Linked DNA regions of Homo sapiens. The protein of the gene in region 3 purifies or fractionates together with the protein of the main gene of each other region. This does not show direct contact. Each region holds a gene or a part of one and is shown on either strand. Other genes may lie near its edges.

Region 1 (6,243 bases), on a different chromosome or scaffold from region 3:
ATCTTAGATACAGACTTTGATAAAACTTATTTATGTTTTCCAAAAGTCTGCATCCTACTTCTGCTTCCTACTTTGTCCATTTGTTTATTGGCTTAAATTACACAAGTGTGGGAAGCTAGATATCCTTCAACTGGTAGTACTTTCTTTGTCATATCACTTATTTCTAGTTTTTACTCACTTGAAAATTTGGCAGTGAGGCAAACTAATATCTGGTTCCCCAAGGGTACCTTCTTCATAGTTCTCTGAGGTTATACTGACATTCCGCACATAAACAGATGATGTATACATTTTACCTGATAGTTTCAGTTGAGGATCTCGGTTAGATTTCTTCTGGTCCTTTATATATAAAACCTTAGAATTTTGGAAGAATTGCTGTTCTGAATTTTTTTCCATTTGATATTGAAGCATTTGAACTTCAGACCAGGTAAGTTGTATTTTTTACCTGAATGCTTTAATTGGTCTCACTAGCCACTAACCCCTTCCATCCTCCTATTTAAAAGCTAAGGAGGAGGCGACCAGGTGCTGTGGCTCACGCCTGTAATCCCAACACTTTGGGAGGCTGAAGCGGGTGGATCACTTGAGTCCAGGAGTTCAAAAACAGCCTGGCCAACCTGGTGAAACCCTATCTCTACTAAAATATAAAAATTAGCTGGCATGGTGGTGTGCACCTGTAATCCCAGCTACTCGGGAGGCTGAGGCATGAGAATCACTTGAATCCAGAAGGTGGAGGTTGCAGTGAGCCGAGATCATGCCACTGCACTCCAGCCTGGGCAACAGGGCCAGACTCTCAGGAAAAAAAAAAAAAAAAAAAGCTAGAGAGGCAGCAATGCTGTTCTGATAATCCCCAGATTTTTCCAAGTATATATGTTCCCAGGGATATTGTCCAGATTCCATATGTAAGCGTTTATACACCTGATTTAGAAAGAAACATAAATTTTCCTTTTCATTAAGGAAGCAGATCCTCCACAAACAGATCTTGAGGGGAGAGGGGAGGAAAAAGACCTACCACCTCTAGTTTGTTTGAAAAAAAAAAAAAAGAAGCAGAGGTTTCAGCAGTGGCATCCAGGGCTGGGGTCGCAGCCGTGGATGGGGCCGGGACCGAGGCCACGGAGCTCGTGGAGGCAAGGCCAAGGATAAGGAGTAGATTCCCATCACCAAGCTGGGGCTCCTGGTCAAGGACATGAAGATCAAGTCCCTGGAGGAGATCTATCTCTTCTCCCTGCCCATCAGGGAATCTGAGATCATTGACTTTTTCCTGGGGGCCTCTCTCAAGCACAAGGTTTTGAAGATTATGCCGGTGCAGAAGCAGACCCGTGCCAGCCAGGGCACCAGGTTCGAGGCGTTTGTTGCCATCGAGGACTACAATGGCCACGTCGGTCTGGGTGTTAAATGCTCCAAGGAGGTGGCCACTGCCATCTGCAGGGCCATCAACATCCTGGCCAAACTCTCGATTGTCCCCGTGCGCAGAGGCTACTGGGGGAACAAGATTGGCAAGCCCTACGCCGTCCCTTGCAAGGTGACAGGCCACTGCGGCTCTGTGCTGGTGCGCCTCGTCGCACCCCCAGGAGCACGGGCATCGTCTTGGCACGTGTGCCCAAGAAGCTGCTCATGATGACTGGTATCGATGACTGCTACACCTCAGCCAGGGGCTGCACTGCCACCCTGGGCAACTTCACCAAGGCCACCTTTGATGCCATCTCTAAGACCTACAACTACCTGACCCCGGACCTCTGGAAGGAGACTGTATTCACCAAGTCTCCCTATCGGGAATTCACTGACCACCTCGTCAAGACCCACACTAGAGTCTCCGTACAGAGGACCCGGGCTCCAGCTGTGGCTACAACATAGGGTTTTTACACAAGAAAAATAAAGTGAATTAAGCCTGGAAAAAAAACAACAACAAATAAAAACCTGGTCATTTATGCTATATTTAAAGCATTTAAATCACTTTCAGAATTACCACTGGGAATGTTGTATTAAAAATTAAGGCCAAGCGTGGTGGATCACGCCTGTAATTCCAGCATTTTGGGAGGCTGTGGTGGGCAGATCACTTGAGCTCATGAGTTCGAGACCTGCCTGGGCAATATGGCAAAACCCCATCTCGACGAAAATACAAAAAGGCCAGGTGCGGTGGCTCACACCTGTAATCCCAGCATTTTGGAAGGCCAAGACAGGTAAATCACCAGAGCTCATGAGTTCAAGACCCGCCTGGGCATCAATGGTGAAGCCTGGTCTCTACAAAATATGCAAAAATTAGCCGGATATGGTGGTGCGCACCTATAGTCTCAGCTGTTCAGGAGGCTGAGGTAGGAGGATGGCTTTAGCGTAGGAAGTAGGGGTTGCAGTGAGCCAAGATCATGCCACTGCACTTCAGCCTGTATGATAGAGCCAGACCTTGTCCAAAAAAAAAAAAAAAAATTAAGAATAATACTGAAGGATTTGGATGTTTTTCACATCTCCCTCAATAACTCTAGTATCTGACAGGAAGTTTAAAGTAATAGTAATATTCAAGAAGGCAACGATAGTTTGTTTTGTAAGCATTTCTTTTGATTCATGTTCTGTGCGCTTTCACTTGATTTGGAGATTAGCAGATGGGAGAAATTGGTAACTTAGAGAAGCATCACAAAGAGTGCTCTCTGAACTTCTGTAACTTTTACCTAATTTTTTATACTAAAAGTTTATGATACAGGTTTTGGGGTTTGTAGCTTATTTAATCTACTTGTTTCTCTCCACAGCAAGACAGATCGGCTTGCCAAAGGATCAGAATGTTACCAAAAGAGCCTTAGTTTAAATCCTTTCCTCTGGTCTCCCTTTGAATCATTATGTGAAATAGGTAGGTGGGTGGGGTTGAGAGGTGGGTGGGTTCCCATCTCCTCTTCTTTTTTTCCTGCTACTTAATTTTTGGAGAGCAATACAGATCATCTACCCCCAAGAAAAATATTTTTCAAAGTTAAAATTGAGAATAAAAAATAAGTTAGAATCTTCGGTATGTTTCAAGAATCATATAACTGAAAATTACACAAAGATTAAATCCAGTAGATTCTTCTGTTGAACCAATCTATTTTCAAGTATCTGGTGTCCTCTAGAATGGGTTATATTGTGTGTTTAACACTAGCAAAATTGCTTTCTGAATAAGAAAATTAATAAAATTTCTAATGCAATTAATAAATGCCTGAAACTTACAAGACCTGAACAGTACAGGGAGAGAATTTCTCAGTATATTTGGCCTAGGATACATAAAGGACCATTTTTCAGCATTGTTGCATCTATGTATATATAGAAGGGCTTCAACCTTTACTGTAAAATATGATGGGTTTTAACTCTTCAACCTCATCTCCTACTTTGAGAAAAATGAGATCTAGTTATTTTCAGCTTTAAAACAAACACAGAAATCTGCATTTTTCTGCGATTTGTTATGTTTAAAATTAGTGTTCTTGTAGTTTATTTTCATTTACAGCTTTATCTTACTGGTAAACTTTTATGATATATTGATAGATGGGTTTTTTGGGGGTAAATTTGATTAGCAGAAGTGGACAGGAGATTTTTAAAGTTTGGATAAGGCCTATTTCCTGTTTCCACTGATTTATGCATACTTGAAAAACATGTATTCCTCACTTCCTCAGAGACAAACTTTTTTTTTTTTTGTCTTCACAGGTGAAAAGCCAGATCCTGACCAAACATTTAAATTCACATCTTTACAGAACTTTAGCAACTGTCTGCCCAACTCTTGCACAACACAAGTACCTAATCATAGTTTATCTCACAGACAGCCTGAGACAGTTCTTACGGAAACACCCCAGGACACAATTGTAAGTGTCTTATATTCTAGTGTTCAAAATATTATGAAAACTACAAAGAATGATCTGAACTAAATAATATATTGTGAATGACTTGGTAGAAATTTTCTGTTTCAGGAATTAAACAGATTGAATTTAGAATCTTCCAATTCAAAGTACTCCTTGAATACAGATTCCTCAGTGTCTTATATTGATTCAGCTGTAATTTCACCTGATACTGTCCCACTGGGAACAGGAACTTCCATATTATCTAAACAGGTTCAAAATAAACCAAAAACTGGTCGAAGTTTATTAGGAGGACCAGCAGCTCTTAGTCCATTAACCCCAAGGTAAGTCAAACAAGATACTTTCAAATGTGCTATAATACCAAATGATCTTATGATAACTCATATTGTTAGTAATGCAGATTATTACAACAGCAACTTCTAAATCACTGTGGAAACAGGGGCATTCTGTTTTCAGAAAATGAAGTAAAAACTGGCAAATAGTGATGTTGCCAGGTGCGGTGGCTCATGCCTGTAATCCCAGCACCTTGGGAGGCCAAGGCAGGCAGATCACCTGAGGTCAGGAGTTCAAGAACAGCCTGGCCAACATGGTGAAACCCTGTCTCTACTAAAAATACAAAAATTAGCTGGGCATGGTGGCGGGCGCCTGTAATCCCAGCTACTCAGGAGGCTGAGACAGGAGAATTGCTTGAACCCGGGAGGCGGAGGTTGTAGTGAGCCGAGATGGAGCCACTACACTCCATCCTGGGCGACAGACCAAGACTCCAACTCAAAAAAAATTGATATTGAATATTGGACTGGCCAGGCGCAGTGGCTCACGCCTGTAATCCCAGCACTTTGGGAGACCAAGGTGGGCAGATCACGAGGTCAGGAGATCGAGACCATCCTGGCCAACATGGCGAAACCCCGTCTCTACTAAAAATACAAAAAACTAGCCGGGTGTGGTGGCACGCGCCTGTAGATCCAGCTACTCGGGAGGCTGAGGCAAGAGAATCACTTGAACCCGGGAGACAGAGGTTGCAGTGAGCCGAGATGGTGTCACTGCACTCCAGCCTGGGAGACAGGGCAAGACTCCATCTCAAAAAAAAAATTGGAGGAAAATTTAAAACTCTGAAATATTCCTTAATTAGGTAGTAAACACATTAAAAAATACTGTCTTTATGGCTGTGCATTAATGGATAGCGGTGAGCCTCATGAAATGTTATAATCAGGGCACCACTGGTTACTGTTAAAGTGCCTTTTTCCAAAACATGGAGGAAATTTGACACCTACCTTTTTTTGTTTGAGACAGGATCTCACTCTGTCACCCAGGTTAGAGTGCAGTGGCACAATCATAGCTCACTGCAGCCTCAAATTCTTGGGCTCAAGCGATCCTCCCACCTCAGACTCCTGAGTAGCTGGGACTGCAGGCACATGCCACCACACCTGGCTAATTTTTTAAGTGTTTTTGTAGAGATGGGGTCTTGCTGTGTTGCCCAAGCTGATCTGGAACTCCTGGCCTCTAGTGATCCTCCTGCTGTGGCCTCCCAAAGTGCTAGGATTACCGTGAGCCACTGAACCTAGCTGTCACACCTATTAATATAAAATATTTTATCAAAATTATTAGAAGTATATGTATGTATAAATACAGGAACTCAGCCCAGAGGATACATATCCAAAAGTATCAAAATGAAAAATTATGTGCTAGAATGGGTTGGGCATGGGGGCTCATGCCTGTAATCCCAGCACTTTGGGAGGCTGAGGTGGGCAGATCACTTGAGACCAGGAGCTCAAGACCAGTCTGGCCAACATGGTGAAACCCTATCTCTACTAAAATTACAAAAATTAGCCCGGCATGGTGACACATACGTGTAATCCCAGGTACTTTGGGGGTTGAGGCACAAGAATCATTTGAACCCAGCAGGTGGAGGTTGCAGTGAGCTGAGATCATGCCACTGCACTCCAGCCTGGGCAACAGAGCGAGACTCTGTCTCAAAAAAATATATACATATATGCTAGAAGAAATTCTATGAATCAGGTCCTGAGGCCGGGGAACTACTAAAATAGCATGACCATGAGATTACAACTCTGGAGAGTTATAGTTATCTAATGGTCTCTAGAGACATTTTCTCTGTAGTTGTGTCTAAATCCCATAAATTCCAAGAATTTGAAGTAATCTCATCATTTGGATCTTAGATTTATAAAGCTACTCTTCTTTATTTCTAATAAATCTCCTGAGATCAGTAATTGTTGCTCAGTTTAGTTCCTTGTTTGATAGCTTTTTAAAATTTTAGTTATGGTGGGTGGAATAGTCTACATTCACAGCTTATTTTTAATCTGCCCCTCAGATCCTCACTGTCCCTAAGACTGATTTGCCATTCTCTTCCTTTTAGACCTTCTAATTTAAGTATACTGCTGCTTTATATATGCCTTGATGACTTTTTGACACCTTGATTTCAACC
Region 2 (6,243 bases), on a different chromosome or scaffold from region 3:
TAATTAATGAAAATATATAAGAATACATTTAACAATTATGTGACTAAAGTTGTGATAGATATACTAAAATCTACTTGGTATAGTTCATAAGTGGACAAATGCTAAAGGCAGGTGTGTATACAAGGGTGATTGGAAGGAAATAGATGATATGGAAATGAAAACATTCATTGTGTGGATCAACCTAATTGGCTTTACAGTTGTGTATCATAGACTGTACAAGAAAAAGAACCAGAAGCAACAATGAGCTGAAACCTATTGTATTTGAACCTATGTATTTGAAATCTGGACTCGATATTCTTGGGATGGTGATTTCCAGGTCCATGCGAGACAGTTGTTGAGCAGTTAATTGCATTCAAAGGGCATTGCCCATTTCAACTATATATACTTTCATAAGCAGAAAAATGTATAATGAAAATGTGGGTTTGTTGTTTAAATTTTTATTAAAATTTCTAATAGAGTTGCTTTTTAGTATATCTTTATCCTTGTATAAGTTATTCGTTAAGTGATTTAAGAACACTGAGAAATGAAAAGGGTCAGTGGACCCAGATGGCTCCATTTATCCTTATTTACTGAGAGTTAATTAGAAGAGAAAGCAGGGTTTTGCCTTTTTTTTTTGCTAAAGACACTTAGCTCTTGTTTTTCAAAAGATACTTACTTTGAGAGAACTGGGCAGTTCATGCCTGCTTGTTTTCATTATAAATAGTTACTTAGGAATAGGGTGGTGGTGGTAGCTTTTCAGAGCTCACAGATGAGAATTGAGTTTGTCTGTGAGAAGGCTAAGGGCAGGCTCTGGAGACAGACAGACTCAAATCCTGGCTCCTCCACTTGGGAGCCATTGCGTCCTGAGCAAGTTGCACTCTACCTTTAAGCCTCAGCTTATTTATCCAAATGTGGGAATACTGGTAACTTCTACCTCAGTGCGTTATATGTATTAAATGGAATAATCTATATAAAATGCTCAACATGTGCATGATACTTGTTAAACAATAAATGTGAGCAATTAAAAAAAAGTAAAGCCTGGTTGAAATAATCAGATGTCTGCATAATTTCTAACGCCTCATCCAATGAAACTTAAGTAATTTAAATAGTCGTGTTTTCTTTTTAAATCTCTTACAGAAATATTGTATCCACAGTGAATCTTGGTTGTAAACTTGACCTAAAGACCATTGCACTTCGTGCCCGAAACGCCGAATATAATCCCAAGGTTAGATCTATTTTAATGTATTTCTTTTTTTTTTCTTTTTTGTCTCCTCTGCCGTGTCTCTATATTTTAATGTATTTCACGCTATAAAACAAATGTCTGTAGATCAGGCCAGGCACAGTGGCTAATGCCTGTAATCCCAGCACTTTGGGAGGCTGAGGAAGGAGAATTTCTTGAACCTAGGAGTTCACCACCAGCCCAGGCAACATGGCAAGACCCTGTCTCTTAAAAAAAAAAAAAAAATTGGCCGGGCTTGGTGGCTCACACGTGTAATCCCAGCACTTTGGGAGGCCGAGGTGGGCGGATCATCTGAGGTCAGGAGTTCAAGACCATCCTGGCCAACATAGTGAAACCCCGTCTCTACTAAAAATACAAAAATTTGCCGGGAGTGGTGGCATGCGCCTGTAATCCCGGCTACTTGGGAGGCTGAGGCAGGAGAATCACTTGATCCTGGGAGGCAGAGGTTGCAGTGAGCGGAGATTGCGCCATTGCATTCCAGCCTGGCAACAGAGCGAGACTCCGCCTCAAAAAAAAAATCTGTATATCAAAGAGTTTGTGTTATGCTTATTCCTTGACACCAATAAAATGAAGATCTAAAGTAAAATGTGCATTGTTTTGTATCTTTTATTGAGTGTCTGTGATATAAGAATCCCTGGGAGTACAGCAGTCTATAAAATAAGCTAAGTTATATATGTATTGTATTGGGATCATGTGAAGAATTTTGTATATGTATAGGGATGATGTTAGCCAGCTATAGTAGGCAAAGTAATTTGGATAAACATTAGCTGGGTTGAGAGAAATGTTAAGTAATGGACTTAGGGTGCATTTTAAAATCCCTGAAACATAATGCCTGAGATCTGAAAGACAGCTAAGGGTCTGAAAATCACCTTTTAACCACTCATAATGAGTCTGTATGACATGTAGCATTCTAAGAATTAATCTTTCATCTATTATAATCACATTTAGTTGAATACATAATTTTATTACTTTACGTTCTTAAGTGATATTTAACCAATAAAAATAGTAGAGGAAATTCTGGAAATTCAAAATAGCTAGGCTTTTCCTGGGACGTATATAAACTACTATATACTGCTAGCTTTTTTAGATGTTGATAAAATCACAGGGAAGACATAGAGCAGGTTTTAAACTAAAATTGTTAAAAGCCAGGCATGGTGACTCAGACCTGTAATTCCAGCACTTTGGGAGGCCAAGGTGGGAGGATCACTTGAGGCCAACAGTTCAAGACGAGCCTGGGCAACATAGCAAGGCCTTGTTTCATCAGAAAATTTAAAAAATTATCTGGGGTTGGTGGCACACACCTATAATCCCAGCTACTTGGGAGGCCAAGACAGAAGGATCTCTTGAGCTCAGGAATTCGAGGCTGCAGTGAGCCATGATTGCACCACTGCACTCCAGTCTGGGCAACAAAGTGAGACTCTTGTCTCTAAAAAAAAAAATTAATAAAATAAAAAAATAAAATTGTTAAAGCAATCTAGTTTGTCAAAGAGTCGTCTTAATTAGAAACATGTAGGTTTTTATTGTATAATTAAATGTATTAAAATATTTAAGTTGTTTCAAAGTAATTATTTGCTTTTTATCATGTACCTAATAACTGAGGCCATTAATTCAACCCACAGTTGAAATATTTTCCCCTTGAGTTACCACCTTAGCAAGAAAATTTTCTGAAAGAATTAACATGTTTCAAGCATAAAAAGCAGAAAATAAAAGTTAAAACTGTGTTTTTTTCCTAATTTGCATTTATGTGTTTAATACATTAATATTGTTTCTAAAGACCAATTGAAAGCATGATTTTACTTCATTACGTATTGATAGGCTTGTAATCTGATTTATTAATTCCATTAAGGTAGAAAAGGTTTATTGGTTTATTTGCCTCAAAATTCATATTAATAAAACAAAATGTATCAGAGAAGCTATAGTCATGATAAGCAGCAAATATAAAGTAGAAACAGAAGCACTTGTATTTATTGAGAACATAACCAAATTTTGCAAACATTTCTCTTGATGGAATGCTCATGTGAAAGAACATACAGATTTGGTATAACTTAGTCACAATTGATTATTTTCTGCTCCTTATGCAAAGGAATATTTGTTACATGTGGTGTATGCAAATCCTTTACAGATATACAGAAATACAGAACAAATATTTTGATAACTAGATGTACTATGTCCTTCCTACCAGTTGTGATTTTTTTGTCAATGGGTGGTTCGCCTAACAACATTGAGCAGTTTGGCATGACCTCACTAATGATTCTCTCTGACCATTGTAGCGGTTTGCTGCGGTAATCATGAGGATAAGAGAGCCACGAACCACGGCACTGATTTTCAGTTCTGGGAAAATGGTGTGCACAGGAGCCAAGAGGTAGCCGTAAGAAATTCATTCTTCTGGTCTATGGGTTATGAATGAAAAGGTGATATCTCATTGTTTTTAGGTTATTAGGTTAGCACTTTAACATGTTATTATTGCTTTCTTATAAAAACCATTTTAATATGATTCTATTAATTATTTTTATTTATTTATTTATTATTTGATTCTATTAATGTTAGATAGCAGTGATTTCATTTTCTTAAAAATTAGATATGGGCAGGCGTGGTGTCTCACCAAGGCGGGCAAATCACTTGAGGCCAGGAGTTCGAGACCAGCCTGACCAACATGGTGAAACTCCATCTCTACTAAAAATACAAAAATTAGCCAGGCGTGGTAGTGGATGTCTGTAGTCCCAGCTACTTGGGAGGCTGAAGCACGAGAATCGCTTAAATCCGGGAGGTGGAGGTTGCAGTGAGCTGAGATCATGCTACTGTACTCCAGCATGGGAGACAGAACAAGACACTTTCTCCAGAAAAAAGAAAAAAATTAGGTAAGATGTAATACAACATCAGAACTATTAATAAAATTCCCTTTATGTGAAAAATGTTGTAAATAACACAAATACATCTTGAAATGGAAGAAAAAATTGATCAAGAATTAAAACACTTCTAAGCTAATGGTGTAAGGGCTTTGCAGACCTTATTGGGCCTGGCAGCGTGACAGCATCACATGTGTTGGCTGCAGAAACCTGCCTTCTCACTGGAACTAGCTTTCATTAATAGTGTTTGAGTTGTGCAGATCTTAAGGAATGCACCCTTGTTATAAAATGTCATTGCCTATATTCTCCATCTGAAGTGATCCTGTCTGAAGGTTAGTACTCTGCGGCCCTGACTGTTCTAAACAGAGCTTATATACTTGGTAGAAGTCAAAAACTAGGGGGAAAATTAGTGACATTAGCTTCATAAATGAACTGAACAAATAAACTAAAACTTTTTAAATGAAAGAGTATTAAATGTACTTGGAGGTATCAACACATAGAAGGGGGCTGTGGATATTTTTGCTTATTCTGAAGTTTGAAATTGTCTTTCAGTGATGGGAATGCCATTGGTGTGGACATTCTGGCTCCTGATCTCCGAGGTTTTTCAGAATGCAGGACAAGGATGTGTTCTTGCCTTTCACTTCCCCTTGGCCACAACATGCAGTAGTAACCTCTTTAATTAAGAGCGTTTTTGTTTGCTTGTTTTCCCCTGCATGGAACATCAGAAACTTTTGGTTTATCAAGGCAAGCTTTTCATGCAGCATTTAGCCTTTTTGTCCCAGAGCATCTGAAAACTGAATATTGTATATGTAGTTGGATGACTATTTCATCAAGACAAGAAACCACCAATACATTTACCTGAAATTTAAAAGCGTAGCATATATATATATGCTTGATTTTTGTTCTTCCTGATCCCCTGCACCTGATAGTCTCTTTATGGTAATATTTTCACATTCTTTTTTGTTGTTGTTGTTGTTTTTGAGATGGAGTCTCGCTCTGCGCCCAGGCTGGAGTGCAGTGGCATGATCTCGGCTCACTGCAAGCTCCGCCTCCTGGGTTCACGCCATTCTCTTGCCTCAGCCTCCCGAGTAGCAGAGACTACAGGTGCCCACCACCATGCCTGGCTAATTTTTGTATTTTTAGTAGAGATGGGGTTTCACTGTGTTAGCCAGGATGGTCTCAATCTCCTGACCTCATGATCCGCCTGCCTCAGCCTCCCAAAGTGTTGGGATTACAGGTGTGAGCCACCGTGCCCGACCTGCCTGCCTGCCTTTTTCTCTTTTATTTTTTCTTTTTTTCTCTTCTTTCTTTCTTTCCTTTTCTTTTTTTTTTTTTTTTTTTTTTTTTTTGGTGGAGTCACCTAGGCTGGAGTGCAGTGGCACAATCTTGGCTCACTGCAACCTCCACCTCCCAGGTTCAAGTGATTCTCCTGCCTCAGCCTCCCAAGTAGCTGGGATTGCAGGTGCCTGGCACCATGCCCAGCTAATTTTTGTATTTTTAGTAGAGATAGGGTTTCACCATGTTGACCAAGCTGGTCTCGAACTCTTGACCTCAGGTGAGCTATCCGCCTTGGCCTCCCAAAGTGCTTGGGATTAGAGGCGTGAGCCACCATGCCTGGCCCACATTCTGCTTTTCTTATGTAAGCTCTGAACTGCTAAGTCGTAGTTTATTCAACAAATGACATAGGAATGTCTATTCATGATGAGTCTTGGTATAAAAGAGGATAGAATTAGTGAATACATTGTTCAATAATAAATCTCATCAACATTTTCTGATCAAAATGAAGTTTGTTAGTTTTCCTCTCAGTAGAAATGCATGGGCTAAAATACAGAAATAGTGATGACTGATGATGGTGATAATTCACATCCATAAAATCTAGGGCTACAATAATTTGGCGGATTGAAAGGTCATTTTGGCAGGCCTACAGTTTTCTGTCAAGGATCCAGGAATACTTTATAAGGAATTGTGAATGCCTGTCAGTCTTTTCTCCTATTGCAAGAAGGCTGACCAGTTTACACTTTATTAGTTTACTGTTTTGGACTTTTTATAAGTTATTAGTCTAAATAAGTATTTTAGCTGGCTCTGAGTATGAATAACTCACTTTTTTCCTTTCCCTAGTGAAGAACAGTCCAGACTGGCAGCAAGAAAATATGCTAGAGTTGTACAGAAGTTGGGTTT
Region 3 (6,156 bases):
TATAATCCCAGCACTTTGGGAGGCCTAGGCGGGCAGATCACCTGAGGTCGGGAGTTCGAGACCAGCCTGACCAACATGGAGAAACCCTGTCTCTACTAAAAATACAAAATTAGCCGAGCATGGTGGCACATGCTTGTAATCCCAGCTACTCAGGAGGGCTGAGGCAGGAGAATCGCTTGAACCCAGGAGGTGGAGGTTGCGGTGAGCCAAGATCGCGCCATTGCACTCTAGCCTGGGCAACAAGAGTGAAACTCTGTCTCAAAAGTAAAATAAATAAATAAATAAATAAATAAATAAAATTAAAAAAAAAAAAAGAAAACCTGGGCTTTCAGCCAAGTTTCAGTCACCACCACACAGGTGGCTCATGCCTGTAATCCCAGCACTTTGGGAGGCCAAGGTGGGCAGATCACCTGAGGTCAGGAGTTCGAGACCAGCCTGGCCAACATGGTGAAACCCCGTCTCTACCAAAAATACAAAAAATTAGCTGGGCGTTGTGGCAGGCGCCTGTAATCCCAGCTACTCAGGAGGCTGAGGCAGGAGAATTGCTTGACCCTGTCAGGTTCACACCATTGCACTCCAGCCTGGGCAACAAGAGCGAAACTCCGTCTCAAAAAAAAAAAAAAAGAAAGAAACTGGGCTTTCATGCAGCAGCCATGGGCCTTTGTCCCGGCAGAGGCTACCATGCAACTGACAGCCCAGGATTCGAGGGTGATGTAACCCAGGGTCGAGGTAGGTCCCTGGAGGCGGTTCTACCCTGAGGGAGCTGCATGATGGGATCTAGTATGCCTGGGCTGAGCCATTCTGCTCTTCCTCAGGGCCCATGAGGGCTCTGGCGCAGGTGGTATGAATTCCCCTGGTAGGCTGGGGCTTCTCAGTCCTGCTTTCCAAAGTGACCCCTGTGCTATGAGCAACTCTGTTACCACTCGGGACCAGGCAACTGTAAGCATAGAAGGTAGCCCTGTCCCAACCCACTTGAAAGTCTTGATATCCTCCCTTCCCCAGAGTAGCCCCTAGAATAGATGCTGAACTAGGTGACCTGGATTTAAATCTGACTACCGCAGTCAAGCCAGGTGACTCTGGGCAAGTCATTAAACACACTGAACTTCATTTCTTCATAGGTAAATTGGGGTTCAACTGTTTATTGAGTGCCCACTTCATGAGAGATGCTGAGTATACACTGGTGAATGTCAGCCCGGTGTTTAGTCCCTGCTTCATGAGACAACTGGAAGAAACATTAAACATTGTCCAAATAATAATTATGGCTGTGAAAGGTGCTGCTAGTCAGAAAACTTGCAGCCTGCATAGAGAGTGTAATATGGCAGGGCCCAAATGAGTTCTAGGTCAGGGGTGATGTCCCTTGAGGAAGAAGGGAATTATTTTATTTTTATTTGAAAATATTTTTCTTTTCTTTTTTTTTTTTTTTTGAGACAAAGTCTCACTCTGTCGTCCAGGCTGGAGTGCAGTGGTGCAATCTCGGCTCACTGCAACCTCCGCCTCCCAGGTTCATGTCATTCTCCTGCCTCAGCCTCCTGAGTAGCTGGGACTACAGGCGCGTGCCACCACACCCAGCTAATTTTTGTATTTTTAGTAGAGACGGGGTTTCACTGTGTTAGCCAAGATGGTCTTGATCTCCTGACCTCGTGATCCAACCCCCTGGGTCTCCCAAAGTGCTGGGATTACAGGCATGAGCCTCCGTGCCTGGCCTAAAAATATTTTTCTACAAAAAGAGAGATGGGGTCTTGATATGTTGCCGAGGCTGGTCTTAAACTCCTGAGCTCAAACGATCCTCTTGCCTCAGCCTCCCAAAGTGCTGGAATTACAGGCATGAGGCACCGTGCCCAGCCAAGGAAGGGAATTTTAAAATGAGACCCAAAAGATCAGAGTGACAGTAAGTGAAGGGGTGGAGGCAGAAGGGTGCCCAGGCAGAGGAAATAGTTTGTGTACCCTAGCACCTAGAAAAATGCCCGTGCTGGCTAGGTGCTCAATACATACTTGTTGACATGTTCCATTCCCATCTACATGCTTTTAACTCCCAAAAGTCTGTTTGGGAGTCAGGAGCATGTGGGTGGTAATGAATGGCTCCAGACCCATAGGTCCAAATGGCAGCTCATTGTCCCACTCAGATGATGAGGCAGAAGGCTCAGAGGGTATACTACCTTGCCATGAAAGAGTTTGAGTGTTAGCAAACTGAAAGAAAGCCAGGGTGGGGCCGGGTGCTTTGTCATGCCTGTAATCCCAGCACTTTGGGAGGCCAAGGCAGGTGGATCACCTGAGGTCAGGAGTTCAAGACCTGCCTGGCCAACATGGTGAAACCCTGTCTCTACTAGAAATACAAAAATTAGCCAGGTGTGGTGCACATGTCTGTAATCCCAGTTACTCGGGAGGCTGAGGCAGGAGAATCGCTTGAACCCAGGAGGCAGAGGTTGCAGTGAGCCAAGATGGCACCACTGCACTCTAGCCTGGGCAACAGAGTGAGGCTGTCTCAAAAACAAAACAAAACAAACAAACAAACAAAAAACAAAGCCAGGGTGGAGGGAGGGAAATGATCCAGGAAGGTATGGTGCATGGTGAAGCTGGAGAGAGATATAGACAGGGTAAGGACGGCAATGGAAAGCCATGAAAAGATTCTGGACTTCCCTGAAGGGTAGCAGGAAGGCATTGATAGATTTTAAGCAGGAAAAGATGTGATTTTTTTGTAAAGATCACACAGCTGTGGTGTGGAGAATAGGTTGTTGGGGGGAAGATGGAGTGGGGAGAAGGGTTAGGAAGTTCTTGCAGGCAAGAGATGGAGAAAAGTGGGAGTAGAGATGGAGAGAAATAGATGTGGCAAGAGATAATGATTAGGGCTTGGCGACTGATTGGATGAGGGAGAGCAAGGGGTAGGATGGTGTCAAGGATATTTCCCAGATTTGTGGCAGGAACAGCCGGGTGCCTGGACATGCATTTACTGAGAATGGCCTTGGAGGAGTAAAGCACTTGAGAGAACATTAGTTTGGGACACGCTAACTGTGAGATGCCTGTAAAACATACACGTGGCAGTGTTAGAGAGGTAGATGTCCAAGCCTGTAGCTCAGAGGAGACTGGACTAGAGGACTGGACATTTGGGAATTGATGACATGGCATTGGTACATAAAGATGTGGGCCCAGATGAGATCTTCCAGAGAGAGAGAGAGCGCTGCAGTGAGAAGGAGAGGCAGCCTTGCATGTGAGGAACTCCCACATTTAGAGGGGAGCAGAGAAGGGGACAGAGAAAGGGCCTTCGAAGAAATGGCCAGAGAGGTAGAAGGAAACCAGGAAAGAATGGCATCTCAGAAACCAAAGTTGGAGCTGCTGAAAGGGCAAATAGAAGGTGAAATCATGAGAAATTCCCCCCTTTTTTTTTGTAGATCAAAACCAGACAAAATTGGCAAGCTCATATGGTTCAACCTAATTAGACTAAAACCTGGAAAAAGTAACTGATGACCTCAGTCTAAGAAATTTTGAGGCCGGGCACGGTGACTCATGGCTGTAATCCCAGCACTTTGGGAGGCTGAGGTGGGCGAACTGCTTTGAGCCCAGGAGTTCGAGACCAGCCTGGGTCTCGAACCCTGGACTCAAAACATGGCAAAACTGCATCTCTACTAAAACAAACAAACAAACAACAACAACAAAAAACTAGTAGGTGGTGTGTGCCTGTAGTCCAGCTACTCCGGAGGCTAAGGCAGGAGGATGGCTTGAGCTGGGGAGATGGAGGTTGCAGTGAGCCGAGATCATACCACTGCACTCCAGCCTGGGTGACAGAGCCAGACCCTGCCTAAAAAAAAGAAAAAGAAGAAATTTTGGTGGAGATTTTGGAGCAGAAGCCAGACTCAGGATAGGGAGAAGTGGATACAATGCAGATAAGAAGGAAAGAAGGAAATAGAATTGACAGACTTGGTGATTGACTGGTAGGGGTGAAAGAGGGCAAAATCAAGGGTAATCCCCAGGTTTCAGCTTTGGCAGCTGAGTGAGTGGTGTCAGCTGATGAAGCAGATGTGTGTTTGGAGGGGGATGTGCGCAGATCAGTAGTCTATGATGAGTGTGAGGTGCGTGGAACTGGTGGTGCCTCGGAGCCTTCTGAGTGGGATGATGAGCTGGCATTTGGACCTATGGGTCTGGAGCCATTCATTACCACCCATATGCTCCTGACTCCCAAACAGACTTTTGGGAGTCAAAAGCATGTAGATGGGAATGGAGCATGTCAACAGGTATGTATTCAGCACCTAGCCAGTATGGGCATTTTTCTAGGTGCTAGGGTTACACTCATGAATAAGACAGAGTGTCCCCCTCATCCCCACCTTGCTTTGGAGCTTCCATTTTATGGGGGCAGACAGACAATAGGCAAATAAGCACAAAATAATGTTAATGGTAGTAAGTGCTATGTAGGGTTAAGGGGCATGGAGAAGACTTACTTGCCATAGGTTAGTCAGGGAAGGGCTCTCTGAGGAGGTAACATTTGAGCGGAGCCCTGAGGAGTGACTGGACGAGCCATGGATGTCCCGCAGGACACAGACAGGAGGAAGCTCAGCAAGTCTGAGGGACAGAAGGTGGGGTGGGAGCAAGCTAGGGAGGAGGGACTGGGGAGGCTGGAGAGCTGGGAGAGGGCCAGATCTGTGGGCTCCTCAGGCCTTGGGGAGGAGGATGGAAAGTGCTGTGCAGATAGTCCTAAGCTGCAGGAAGGGCAGGGACTGGGCGAGAAGAGAGAATCCATGAAAGGCTTCCCCTTCTATCTGGGCCCCAGAGCCAGAAAAGCCCCTTTGTGCAGAGGGTGGGTGGCCTGTTCTGGGTGGGGGAAGGGCTGTGCTTGGTCCTGAGGCTGAGCCTTGAGGGGCTGGACAATGGGGCCCCTTGTGATTGGACTTGGGGGCCAAGGGGCTCCCTCAGTGATGGGATTCCTGAGCCAGGAGGCATGTGACCCCAAGACCTTGTCAGAAGGTCTGGGACTGCTGCTGGGGAATGGGGTAGGGGGGTGGGGAGAGGTAGGGGGGTGGGGAGAGGTGGGGGGGCGCCTCCTCTAGAGGCTGTCTCCAGACACAGTGCCCTGTCCTGTCTCAGGCTGAAGGAGGTGAGATGGGCGGAGGAGGGGGCATGGTTCTACTTGGGGGAACAGAGAGGGCAGCATCAACAGATGGTTCCATAGCAGGCCAGGAGGGAGGAGCCACTGCCCCCAGGCCCAGTGGGTGGGGGCAGGCAGAAGAAGGCCTGGCCATCCTGTCTGTGTCCCTTCAGAAGAGAGAGCATGGAGCTGGAGAGGATCGTCAGTGCAGCCCTCCTTGCCTTTGTCCAGACACACCTCCCGGAGGCCGACCTCAGGTAGAGACGGGTCCCCCGGAAGGCTCATGTCAGTGCTGGAGCTGGAGCTGCCGGGCAGTACTATGGGTACTGGCTGATGGAAAGACAGCAGGAGGGCTGACTAGGATTTGCTGAGAGGCCTTACCTCTCATCCTGTCCCTGTCACCTTTGTTGGGCAGATGGGAAACCATAGCTCTGAGGGAGGGGGTTATACTCTCTGGCCTTAAAGATAAAGGTCTAGCTCATAGACCCCATGAAGCTGAGGGCTGGAGTCTCAGGATAGGTGGGGGTGCTGGAGGCATCCAGTGTCCTACCCAGGGCTTGTCCTGTTCCCTTCCTGCAGTGGCTTGGATGAGGTCATCTTCTCCTATGTGCTTGGGGTCCTGGAGGACCTGGGCCCCTCGGGCCCATCAGAGGAGAACTTCGATATGGAGGCTTTCACTGAGATGATGGAGGCCTATGTGCCTGGCTTCGCCCACATCCCCAGGTAGGTTCTGGCTAGGGCCAGGAGGAGGAAGGGGCTGGCTGATTATGGGGTGGGCAGAGTCATCCTCTCACTGCCCTCATCTTTTCAGGGGCACAATAGGGGACATGATGCAGAAGCTCTCAGGGCAGCTGAGCGATGCCAGGAACAAAGGTGAGTCTGGGGCTCTGGGCACCTGAGTGATTCATAATCCCGCTCCCCCAACTGCCTGCTCCCCAGAGCCTTGGCAAACCTGATGCTCTCTTTGCCTCTTTAAGAGAACCTGCAACCGCAGAGCTCTGGTGTCCAAGGTCAGGTGCCCATCTCCCCAGAGCCCCTGCAGCGGCCCGAAATGCTCAAAGAAGAGACTAGGTCTTCGGCTG
Region 4 (6,243 bases), on a different chromosome or scaffold from region 3:
TTAGCAATTTTTTATTTGTCCTTTAAGAGGTGTTTTATGCAAACACGAGCAAATATGTATGTACAGTCTCCCCCTTTTTGTACAAATGGTAGCATACTAGGTATACGCTCTCCTATATCATGCTTTACCCCCACCACTTAATATGGCTTAGCAATTTTGTATCAGCACATAAAGAGCTTCTTCATTTTTTAACATACAATTGGAAGCATTTTATTATGTAAGTAGACTGTATTAACCAGTTAGTGAGCTGCTTTTATTCTTAGGTCTTATATTACCTTTTAAACTAAGGGAAACTGCCATCTTGCCTTTATTTCTTTAAATGAAAAACTTTCTATTTGAATGAAAAATAAATAGTTTGTGACAGGAAATTGTTATTTAAAGTCCCTCATTTCCTGTTTAACTCCAGTTTTTAAAAGTTTTAGTAAAATGATCAAAATGTACATGAGGAGGCAAGCAAGCCAGGTTAAGAGTTAACTCACAAGGTGAATTTAACTCTTTTGTTGAGGTTCTTACAGTTCTGAACAGACTACTTCTTTCAATTATTATTTTGGCCCAAAAGGTTTTTATAGCTTTCTTTCTTAATGAGAAAGAACATTTCATATAGTCCGGTGTTTTTTTGGGTTTTTTTTAACAGACAGCTCATGGGATATTATTACCCAGTAAGGCTGATTACTATACTAGATTTCTCCCTGCATTCATTTATTTTTTACATACTTGTTAACTTACCTTGACGATTTTCTAGTATTTCTTAATGTAATTATGTGAGTTTTATATTTTGTACCTAAATTTAAAAATAGTGAGATTCACCTATATGATTGCTGAGATGATAAACTTTACTGCATAGATGATTTTTTTACCCCCGTGGGGAAACCTTTGGTCAACCAGTTGGACCAAGTAATACGTATTTCAGCCAAAGCACAAAATGCGTTTCACTACCTTTTTTTTTTCCTCTAGCTTTTCGAAACAGCATTGAGCTACAATACTTTTTTATTTATTTATTTATTTATTTATTTTTATTTATTTATTTTTTTGAGGCAAGGTTTGGCTCTATCACCCAGGCTGGAGTGCAGTGGCACACACTTGGCTCACTGCAACCTCTGTTTCCTGGCTCAAGCCATCCTCCCATTTCAGCTTCCTGAGTGAGTGGGACAACAGGCGCGCACCACCAGGCCCGGCTAATTTTTTGTAGAGACAGAGTTTCGCCATGTTGCCCAGGCTGGTCTCAAACTCATGAGCTCAAGCCATCCACCTGCCTCAGCCTCCCAAAGAGTTGGGATTACAAGCGTGAGCCACCATGCCCGAATGCTGTAGTACATTTTAAATATACATGCTGTTTGTATTTATCTTTAAAATGTACACACTATGACTTTTTTGAGTTGATTAAACTCAGAAAGTGATTAATAATATAGCAGCAAGGGCACAAATCTCTTTCCAGAAAACATCATTAAGTAAAGCTGTCATGGGCCAGTCGCGGTGGCTGACGCCTGTGTGATCCCAGCACTTTGGGAGGCTGAGGTAGGTGGATCACCTGAGGTCAGGAGTTCGAGACCAGCCTGGCCAACATGGTGAAACCCCGTCTCTACTAAAAATACAAAAATTAGCTGGGCATGGGGGCAGGCGCCTGCAATCCCAGCTACTCAGGAGGCTGAGGCAGGATAATCACTTGGACCTGGAAGGCAGAGGTTGCAGTGAGCTGAGATTGCACCATTGCACGCCAGGCTGGGCGACAAGAGCGAAACTCTGTCTTAAGAAAAAAACAAAAGCTGTCATGGTATATTTCGTTTTTTGTATTCCCAAGTTGGTGTTTATGCGTTGATCATATATACAAAGTTTTTAATGTAAGAATATTGTTTTGAGGTTTTACTAATATTTGATTTAAAATATTACTATGTGCTATTTGGCCAGGCGTGGTGGCTCACGTCTGTAATCCCGGCACTTTGGGAGGTCGAGGCGGGCGGATCACTTGAGGCCAGGAGTTTGAGACCAGCCTGGCCAAGATGGTGAAACCCCATCTCTACTAAAAATAGAAGAATTATCTGGGTATAGTTGTATACGCCTGTAGTCCCAGCTGCTTGGGAGGCTGAGGCAGGAGAATTGCTTGAGCCCTGGAAGTGGAGGTTGCAGTGAGCCAGTATCACCCCACTGAACTCCACTCTGGGTGACAGAGCAAGATGCCATCTCATAAATAAAATATTACTGTGTGCTATTTGTACCTGCTAAATGATTAAAATGTTTACAAAGTGCTTTGTTGTTGTTGTTGTTGTTGAGACGGAGTCTTTCTCTGTTGCCAGGCTGGAGTGCAGTGGTGCGATCTCAGCTCACTGCAACCTCCGCCTCCTGGGTTAAAGCGATTCCCCTGCCTCAGCCTCCCAAGTAGCTGGGATTACAGGCGCCTGCCACCATGCCCAGCTAAAGAGACAGGGTTTCACCATGTTGGCCAGGATGGTCTCGATCTCCTTGACCTCGTGATCCACCCACCTCTGCCTCCCAAAGTGGTGGGATTACAGGCGTGAGCCACTGCGCCTGGCCTACAAAGTGCTTGTCTTTACATATTTGGGGATGGGGGTGGGGTAGATCATTGAAATCTGTAAAGGCAGAACGTTTTTTATCTGGAACATATCTGTAGACTAACAGAGTTAAATGATTTCCCACAGTGTCATGGAATCATCAGTGGATTGCCTCTTGGGGTGGAGGCAAAGATCATTAAAGCAGCAAACTGATAATGTGAACGTGGTTGTTTTTTCTCTGCCAATTAAATATATGCTAGTTTAGTCATTATAGAAGAGCCAGATGCTGGTCAGCTTGTTGAAGTTGTAAGTAGAAGGTGTGGTTTTATCACATCTGTAAATGTAGGTTTTTGAGACAAAACTTAAATAAGAATAGACGTTAGTTTTTATTCACATTCAGAATGTCTGACTCCCCTTAATATATACACACTCTTGTCTTATCTACTGGGTTTTTTTGTTGTTGTTTTTTGTTTTGCCTTTTCTCTCTCTCTTTTTAAGCTCTGCCAGACAAGGCCCTATGAAGATAGGTTTTACAGGTTGAGAATCTTTTATCTGAAATTCTTGGGACCAGAAGTATTTCCAGTTTTGGGTTTTTTCAGATTTTAGAATATTTGCATATACATACATAATGAGCTATCTTGGGGATGGGACCCAAGTCTAAACATGAAATTTGTTTCATATACACATTATACACATAGCCTGAAGGTAATTTTATACAAAATTTTTAATAATTTTGTGCATGAAACAGTTTTGACTGTGAACTGTTACATGAGGTCAGGTGTGGGAATTTTTCATGGCATCATGTCAGTGCTCAAAAAGTTTGAGATTTTGGATGTTTTATTAGGGATGCTTACCCTGTATTATATTTTGCCCAGATGTTTCCTCATTTGTCTTCTAGGCTACCAGAAAGATGTTAGCTTAGAAAAACGTATTCTGGCGTTTATTCCAACAGATGAGAAGGCAGTTTCTCCAGTGATGAATAATTACCTATAATTTAATACGTGCATTATACATCTCCAGTGATGAAAAATCACTGTGTATTAAAAAATTCTTGAAGCTAGGTACATAATCTCAACTCCTAAAAAAGAAAATAAACAGTAGTACTCCTTGATGAACTTACAGATGCTAAGTTGCCTTTTCTTAGAGTTGAAATAAGGTGATAAAGGAGTTTACCGTGAGACTAGCTGTGTGAACAAAGATGAAAAACACCCTTTCAGTTTTCTTCCTCTTGGATGATTCTAGGATCTCTAAAAAATAATCTTAAAAGGGGCGAGGTTTTGAGAGGATGAGGTCTAAGGAATTGATGGTGAGTTTTTTCTGAAAGAAGAGAAGTGACATTTGATTAGATAAGAAAGGGTTAAAAGGGAAGTTATTAATAAAATAGTTTAGGAGTAGAGTGGATCTGAAAGTTGACTTATACCAATGATGATAGAATGTGTCTTTTCCCAAAGGTTAGTGCATCTTCTCTGAAATGAAGACGTTTCTTTCATCAATTTTAAGTGAATTTCTAAGGATCTGGTTATCTACTTGTGAGTTTTTGGTTGTAACTGTATGACAGTACAGATGTAACTAAAAATGTTTGTAATTTACCCAAGGTTAAATAACCATTATTTTTGAGGGCTGTTATCCCTGTTGGTATAAGTAAGTAGTTGGCAGTAGGGGACACAGAAATACCTTGTTTTTCACCACTGAAGTGAAAATTACAGATTATTCTGAATTATTTGTACTCTTTTTTTTTTTTTTTGAGAGGAATCTCGCTCTGTCTCCCAGCCTGGAATGCAGTGGTGTGATCTCGGCTCACTGCAACCTCCGCCTCCTGGGTTCCAGCGATTCTGCTGCCCCAGCCTCCCAAGTAGCTGGGATTACAAGCATGTGCCACCATACCTGGCTAATTTTTTTTTTTTTTTTTTGTATTTTTAGTAGAGACAGGATTTCACCATGTTGGCCAAGCTGGTCTCGAACTCCTGACCTTATGTGATCTGCCTGCCTCAGCCTCCGATTACAGGCATGAACCACCGCCCCCAGCCCTATTTGTACTCTTAAAGGGGAGTCATTTTCTTATAATAAGTATCAGTAGTAGCTCTATTGTTTGCTGTGATCAATGGTGACACCTTGACTTTATGTATTGCCATTTATCAATCATTTATTCAGTGAAGATTTATTGACCATTGACTTTATTATGGTTGGTGAAATAATCGCAAGAAAATTTATTCAGTTAGGTATTTATAAAAATACCTAGGTATTAAATGAAGATTGTTCTAGTTGATATAAGCAATAAAGCCTGACTATATGGCTCCTACCCTCAAGAATCTTACGGTATAGTAGGGATGATGAAATAGTGTAAGAATGATTTATATGTGCCAGAGTACATGACAGAGTTTTTACTGTCTTGAAGAGCTACAGAGTTCAGAAGAGAAGGGGCTTAGTGAGGAAAAGTTTTGTGGGAGAAGTAGAATTCAAGTTGAATACTAAAGAACTTCAGTAAGTACAGATAAAATGGAGTGTATTCTAGGCAGTGGAATGGACAAAAAAATGAAAACATGGACATATAATGAACTTGACATACTCATAAATTGGTGAAGAAAGTATTAGATTATAGATCTACATTTTGAGGAATGCTGAGTATGAGGCAGGGAGCTTTGAGTTTCATGTAAGAGAAGGTAAGATATAAACAGGAATACAATGATAAATTGGGCTGAAATGTAGATTTCCTGACTCCCAATTCTTCTCCTTAGTGTAGACAGAGATATACAGTCATGCACTGTATAAGAACGTTTTGGTGAATGACAGATTGCATATACAACAGTGGTCCTGTGCTAGTGTAAGCAAACCTATTAAGAACTTCAGATAGGTCCTTCAGGAGGTATTCCAGAAGAAGGCATTGTTACCATAGGAGATGACAGCTCCATGCATGTGATTGCCCCTTGAAGACATTCCAGTGGGACACGTTGTGGAGGTGGAAGGCTGTGATGTTGACAATCTTGACCCTGTGTAGGCCTAGGCTAACGTGTGAATGTCTTTTTAACAAAAAATTTTAAAAAGTGGCCGGGAATGGTGGCTCACGCCTGTAATCCTAGCACTTGGGGAGGCTGAGTCAGGCGGGTTGCTTGAGCCCAGGAGTTTCAAGCAGCCTGGGCAAAATGGCGAAATCCTGTCTCTACAGAGAATACAAAAATTAATTAACTGGGCTTGGTGGTGCATGCCTGTAATCCCTGCTACTCACGAGGCCAAGGCAGGAGAACCCAAGAGGCAGAGATTGCAGTGAGCTGATACTGTGCCACTGCACTCCAGCCTGGGTGACATAGTGAGACCCTGTGTCAAAAAAATAAAGTTTAACAAAAAAGTTTAAAAAGTAAAAAAAAAAAAAAAAAAAAAAAAAAAAGGAAAAAACCTTAGATTCTTTTATTGCTTTACTTTATTACTAAATTTGCTTTCACTTAAAAACCCTTTAGAGAAAAAATATTTTTATACAGCTGTACAATTTATTTGTGTTTTAAGCTATGTGTTATTACAAAAGAGTTGACAAGTTAAAAAAACTAAAAAGCATATGAAGTTACAGTAAGCTACGGTTAATGTATTACTGATGAAAGAAAATTTTGTTTATATAAATTTAGTGTAGCCTGGATGGGCACAGTGGCTCACACCTGTAATCCCAGCACTTTGGGAGGCCAAGGCAGGTGGATTACCTGAGGTTAGAAGTTCGAGACCAGCCTGGCCAACATGGTGAAACCCTGTT
Region 5 (6,243 bases), on a different chromosome or scaffold from region 3:
AACAATGAGTCAATTTTAGAAGAGATCATAGAACGACTAATAAAGCTTGTATTGCCAATCAAATCAGAATCTTAGTTAAATGCTAATAATATGGTAGAGTTCTTGCTTACGTGTGGGTGGATAAGGGCTGATACAGCATTTAGCGAAAATAGCATCAGATGTAGGTAAACTTGCTTTAACACATTTTTAATTAGGAAATTTAAGAGGGCTTTCTCCTGGCTTTAAGAATATTCCTTCATGAAGGGCTTAGGGCCGGTAAATAGATTGCTTTTTAAGTTGTGACTTTGTACTTCTATTAATATAAAAATATTTACCATTTATTACCCAACATGACTTCAGTGTTGACTGTGTGGATTAGTTGGCCCATGAAACTTTGGTACATTTATTTTTTGCAAATTGTCCTGTCCTATGACAGAATGCAGGCAGTTTCTTTACTTGTCTATAGAATCTCTTATTTCCTGGCTACTCATCACTTTCTTGTTTTTGTCTAGCTAAGCCCACGGTCTTTCTGGTTGCAGTCACTTGGTTCATGCTGGAAATACATTTGTATACACGTTTGTAGAATAAATAATACTTTATAGGAATTCAAAGATAAGGGGAGACAGCTCTTTTCATGTGCAACAGATACTGTTTATGATGTCCCTTGGCACTATTCTTGGAGCTTGAGATACACTAATGATCAAAACAGAACAGTCCCTGCCATTGGGAAGCTTACTCCAATCAGGGGAGATAGATGCTAAAACATAATAAATTAGGATTTATTTACTTATTTAAAACATAATAAAATATTTATATGTTAGAAGCTGATAGTCGGTATGGAAAAATAAAGAGCAGGGAAAGAGGACAGGTTTGGTTTCAGTTTTAAATAGGATAGTCATAGTAGGTCTTTGGAGAAAATGACATTTTAGCAAAGACTTGGAAAGAGTTAGCCCTGTCATCTGGTGGCAGAGTCTGTTGTATGTGAGGAACAGCAAGGAGGCCTGTGTGGCTAGACTGGAGTGAGGGAAGAGGAGAGTACAGTAGTAGGTAGAGAGGTAAGGGAAGGCAGATAGTAAGGATTTTGTAAGGACATGGCTCTTACTCTTAAGTGAATCAGAAAGTTATTGGAAGGTTTCAGTGAGACAAATGGTATGAACTGATTTAAATTTTGAAAGGATTACTTTGCTTTCTTTGTAGAGAGCATAATATGAGGAGGAAGCAGAGGTTGCTGAAACGAGACTATTTAGGGGGATATTATAATAATTCACATGGGAGATAATGATGACTCGGCCTATGGTGATGGTATTAAAGTTGGTGAGAAGTAGTTGGATTTTGGATTTGTTTTGAAGGAAGAATGTTAACAGCATTTCCTGACTCTGAGATTTGTGGTAGAAAAGAAAAAGGAATCAAGAATGACTCTTGAGATTTTTTGATGAGGATTCTGAAAGAAGGATGGTGATACCATCAGTTCAGATGAGGAAAAGCTGCATGTGGAGCTGGTTGGACATGCCAAGTCTGGTATGTCCGTTAGACATTCAAGTCATCAATCTTAAGATGCTACATTTAGCATTTATGTAGTGTATTTAGACCAGAGATATAATTAGTTCTTAATCCAACAGTCTTTACCCTACCTGCTGTTTTACCTTTATTGTGCTTTGTTTTGCTTTAATAAGTAAGCAAAGTTTGAATCCAGAAGAAGAACATGAGAGTAGTTTCCAAATAAGATGAAGGTTGTTTGATTGAGTGATTTTTTTTTTTTAAGTCTCAAAAAGCAGAGCTAGGATCAATAAATGGAAGTTGGAGAAGCAGATTTCCGTAAGGGTAAACTCTGAAAGATTTTACAAGAGAGCTGTTCCAAAAAGGAATAACTTAATTTGAAATTCTTTGCTCACTGTTTCTAATCGTATTTAAGCAGACACTGCACAACCATTTGCCAGGAATATGTCATGAAGAATGTTTGCACTGGGAGGTTAGGCCATGGAATTTTAGGAATGAGATCTCAGAAAATATCTGTACCTGGCCGGGTGCAGTGGCTCACGCCTGTAATCCCAGCACTTTGGGAGGCCGAGGTGGGGGATCACCTGAGGTCAAGAGTTCAAGACCAGCCTGGCCAGCCTGGTGAAACCCATCTCTACAAAAATACAAAAATTAGCTGGGCGTGATGGTGAGTGCCTGTAATCCCAGCTACTCAGGAGGCTGAGGCAGGAGAATCACTTGAACCTGGGAGGGGGAGGTTGCAGTGAGCCAAGATCGTGCCATTGCACTCCAGCCTGGATAACAGAGTGAGACTCTGTCTCAAAGAAAAAAAAGAAAAAGAAAATATCTATACCTGTTGAGCATTTCTGCATTATTATATGAAACAGACTGATTTAGTAAAAGCGTACTGGACCAAGACTTGAAAATCATGATTGTCACTTAGTAGCAGTATACACTTGGTCAAACCATTGAACCCTATCCAATCTGTCATTTCTTCTTCTGAAAATGAAAGCCTGAACTAGTTGATTTTTTTTTTTTTTTAGGTACCTTTAGATCATAGAATAGGGAGAACCAGGGGGCCTTCTTTGCAGAAGATGTGGAACTTGAACATTAAATAATTAGTGTGACTTACTGGGAAAAGGAAGAAAGGTCACTTCAGTTCATTAAGTTTTACAACTCCTCTCCCCCACCAAATCCATGGAATTACAAACAACTACGGACTATAAGTGAAGGCAAAGATGGGAGTGCCCAGAGCCTGCCCTTCAGCTCTTTTTGTTTAACTGTGGATGTACATAGTTTTTGAAATCTGGTGTAAGTGACTGGATGATTAGCATCCTTTAGATGTATTTTTAAAATACTGCTATGTATAAGGTTCCATGGTAGTTAGGTCTTGAGAACTCTATAAGGAGTTTTATTTTGGTAGAAGAAATGAGTCCATAATTGTATTACTTACAAATAATGTAAGAAATGTCAATGAAAATACCATTGGGAATTTAACAGTGGAAAAGAATAGTTTTAGCTGGTAAGATTTGGGAAAGCTTTGTGGAGGATAGTCTTTTTGAGGTAGACCTTGAAAATATATATGCAAACCTGGTAGAGAGATAAGACATTTTGTAAAGAAATATTTTTTAACTACTTTAATGAACACAAGTACTAAAAGCTATAAAATAGTACTAATTACAGATAAATTTGTTTTTAGACCCACCTAGTGAGTTTTGTGTGTGGTTTTTTTGTTGTTGTTGTTCTTTTTGGTGAAATTAAACTTTATTAAGAAACCAATTTTTAGGCCAGGTGCTGTGACTCACGCTTGTAATCCCAACACTTTGGGAGGCTGAGATAGAAGGATCACGTGAGGCCAGGAGCTCGAGCCCAGCCTGCACAACATAGGAGACCCTTCTTCTACAAAAACAAACCAATTTGCAAATACAATACTGTAAATACTGTTTTGTGGGGGGGTGTGTGTGTACGTGTGTGTGTGTATGGGTTTTTTGTTACTTGTTTTCTCTGTTTTCTGATTGTATCTCTCAATTTTTAAAATGTTGTTTTTGTTTAGATACACAGAAGTAAAAACAAATGGAAATTTCATCTCAAGGATGGCATTATGAATCTTAATGGAAGAGATTATATATTTTCCAAAGCCATTGGAGATGCAGAATGGTGAAGAGTTGCTTTTTTTCTTTTATAAATAAAAGAAACTTAAAAAAAATGTAAAGCGGACAGTTTGAAACTTGGGGCATATGCCAACCAAAACTTCGTTTCTGCATGTCAGAAAAGTGCAGTAGAAGCAAAGCTACTGGAACAAAGATAGACCTTGACAACATAGACACTACTTACTGGCAAGCCATGGAACTGTAGCACCTAGGGTTTTTGGGTGGGAGGGTTGGGGTTTTGTGTAGGAAAACCATAATTGTTGATTTTAAATACAGGTACCTGCCACCGGTAATTAGCATGTAAAGCTTTGTCTATATTCCTTCCTCCAACTTGGGTTCAATCAGAAGATACTTGTTGGAATGAACTGAAGAAACTTCCCTTTTGATAGATTGAACTGAAACTGCTTATTGTATGTGGTTATATTTGGTAAAAGTTGCGTGTGAGCTTTTTACAAAAGGGTAAGAATTGTGTTGAATTTTAATTCACTTGTATAAGAAAACAATTTAAAACTCTCATAATAGGTCTTAAATATTTTTACTTGCTATTCTCCCTCAGTGATATATACCTCTTCCTTTCCAGCTTTATGAAACATCTATTTAAGATTTAAAGTTATCAGTGATCATAGTTTGGAGATAAAATTTGACCCAGGAATGAATATTTATTTTAATTAGGTTTTCATACTTATTAAATGTAATTAAAGACTTGGGTCTTGTCTGAGTTCAGTGGAATTGAAACCACAACTTTAATTTCCTTACAGAAAAACTTAATTTGTTTCTTTTAGTGCCACACCTTAAAAAGAAACCCCAAACTAGCTCCTCAGGAATATAGTTTTATTTTGCAAGCATACCATCTAGCTGAAATTGTATACACATGAATATATGTAGACTTTTCCTGTTGGGCTGAAGTGTGTGCTTATAAATGTGTTTAGTTTTTAAGCTAAACATTCAGTTAACAGTCTGTGCATTGATTAGCATAGGGCAGGTGGTGAGGACCTGGATTTTTATTAAACAGTTTAGTAATTATAAAAGTTTCTTGTGTTTACTAGTAAAGAATTTTAAAAATCTATTCTAATTCAACAAGTTTTTAAAATCAACTTTGTAATTTGAGGGGAAAATTTGGGGGGAAGAGGTGGGTGGGCCACTAAGTTACCTCTCTTTCATTTGGTGGCCCTTCCAGGCCATTGAAAATAAAGACGTTGGCTCCAGTTTGCACATTGGGAAGAAAGCATAGAAATTTGACTTGTATATTAAAAATAATAGAAATGTAATATGTATATTAAGAATGCATAGGTCTGTATTCTGTAAGGGGCTCTGAAGAACAATATGGCACTGCTGTGTTCAGTGTGAATTCACTGCCTGGGAGAACTGCAGGAATGCTTGTCTTCACCATTGTGTTCTTACAACGAATTCAACTTTCCATGGTTTATCTTGACAAAATTTACATGTGTTTAGGTTACTTGTATATTGATATATTTTTTTAATCTTCAGTTTTTGTCTTCCTTTTGCCTTTGTGTTTTCAGAAGTAACACATGAACACTTTTTAAAGTACATTACAGAGAAGAAAACTGTGAGCTATTATATAGTGTTTCTTTTTTAACACAAATCTTTTAACTTTAAAAAAAGGCAAAAATTTTTTTTTTCTACTTCCCACCCAGCTTACCACCTTGATCTCTTTAACTTATGTTCTAAACTTTGGTGTTAATGGTGGTGTCTAGCATGCTAGTAGTTAGATTTTATTTAGATGCCATAACTGGTAATACAGCTTTTATTTTGACTATATTAATTTAGTTTTTTGAGGGGAAGTTTGTTTATTCTGTGACTCTCAAAGCACACAGAGGTTTTAAAATATATATTATTAAGACTGAGAGAAGAGGAAATGGGAGGGAGTAACATCACAGAAGTGCTGTTGTTCAACTGTTCTTCAATATAGTTGCTAGTAGGTTTGTATTTACTCAGTAAGGAAGTCAGTGACCTGAACTACCTATAAAAATTCAGCAGTGCTGCAGTGTTGCTTAAGTGAAACCCTTTGGCTATCTAGTAGTTTTTATGCTACTGAAACTTGGATTACTGTATGATATTCAGCTTGTCTTGGGCCCTCTATGTAGACAAACATTCATATTCATAGTAGTGTTGTATACTGGCCTGTTTTTATAACTTTATTTTTCAAATATTAACAACCACTGCTTTCAGAGTGGTTATTTTGTTATTTTTGAAGCAGGAAATAACCATTTGTATTTGCACCTGCGTATTGCATATGAATTATGGTATACTTGGCAAATGCTTTTCTTTTACCTGTGAAAATTCTGAAAGCTGGTCCAAGCTACATTGCATACCAAATTGTGCTCTTATATATTATTTGCATCGTGTCCTTTTTAATCAAATAGCATGTTTTAGTTTTATTATAGTAGCTTTTGCTGTAAGAATGTCACTTGCTTATCTTTTATTGTACTTGAATTCTTAATCATGCTTTTAACATTGTATTTAACAAATCATTTCGTATTAGGTTCCATTAAAATGTCATTCCTTTGAAAAGGCAAGGGATTTCCACTTTCAGAATTTGAAAATGAAAGTAGCATGTTTATCTAAAGGCAGAAAATAGTTCGGACTTGGTATTATGAAAATAAGTAATGGTTTCTGG

Evidence for each region.
Region 1: the proteins of CUEDC2 (region 3) and CDC27 purify together in Homo sapiens (affinity purification with western blotting, with the first as the bait; 2 studies listed by BioGRID). This does not show direct contact.
Region 2: the proteins of CUEDC2 (region 3) and TBP purify together in Homo sapiens (affinity purification with mass spectrometry; 3 studies listed by BioGRID and IntAct, with this or other methods). This does not show direct contact.
Region 4: the proteins of CUEDC2 (region 3) and CREB1 purify together in Homo sapiens (affinity purification with western blotting; one study listed by BioGRID). This does not show direct contact.
Region 5: the proteins of CUEDC2 (region 3) and GTF2A1 purify together in Homo sapiens (affinity purification with mass spectrometry, with the first as the bait; one large-scale study listed by BioGRID). This does not show direct contact.

Annotation. Positions count from the first base shown.
Region 1 is NC_000017.11:47,154,796-47,161,038, reverse strand, and holds part of CDC27 (cell division cycle protein 27 homolog), read left to right. Parts: intron 1-1,040; exon of another isoform or gene 1,041-1,885; intron 1,886-2,735; coding exon 2,736-2,833; intron 2,834-3,654; coding exon 3,655-3,809; intron 3,810-3,914; coding exon 3,915-4,126; intron 4,127-6,174; exon of another isoform or gene 6,175-6,243. UniProt on the Homo sapiens protein: Component of the anaphase promoting complex/cyclosome (APC/C), a cell cycle-regulated E3 ubiquitin ligase that controls progression through mitosis and the G1 phase of the cell cycle.
Region 2 is NC_000006.12:170,563,429-170,569,671, forward strand, and holds part of TBP (TATA-box-binding protein), read left to right. Parts: intron 1-1,116; coding exon 1,117-1,204; intron 1,205-3,489; coding exon 3,490-3,581; intron 3,582-6,183; coding exon 6,184-6,243. UniProt on the Homo sapiens protein: The TFIID basal transcription factor complex plays a major role in the initiation of RNA polymerase II (Pol II)-dependent transcription.
Region 3 is NC_000010.11:102,424,290-102,430,445, reverse strand, and holds part of CUEDC2 (CUE domain-containing protein 2), read left to right. Parts: intron 1-5,247; 5' UTR 5,248-5,257; coding exon 5,258-5,331; intron 5,332-5,653; coding exon 5,654-5,797; intron 5,798-5,885; coding exon 5,886-5,947; intron 5,948-6,051; coding exon 6,052-6,156.
Region 4 is NC_000002.12:207,534,809-207,541,051, forward strand, and holds part of CREB1 (cyclic AMP-responsive element-binding protein 1), read left to right. Parts: intron 1-6,243.
Region 5 is NC_000014.9:81,177,596-81,183,838, reverse strand, and holds part of GTF2A1 (transcription initiation factor IIA subunit 1), read left to right. Parts: intron 1-3,508; coding exon 3,509-3,616; 3' UTR 3,617-6,243. UniProt on the Homo sapiens protein: TFIIA is a component of the transcription machinery of RNA polymerase II and plays an important role in transcriptional activation. TFIIA in a complex with TBP mediates transcriptional activity.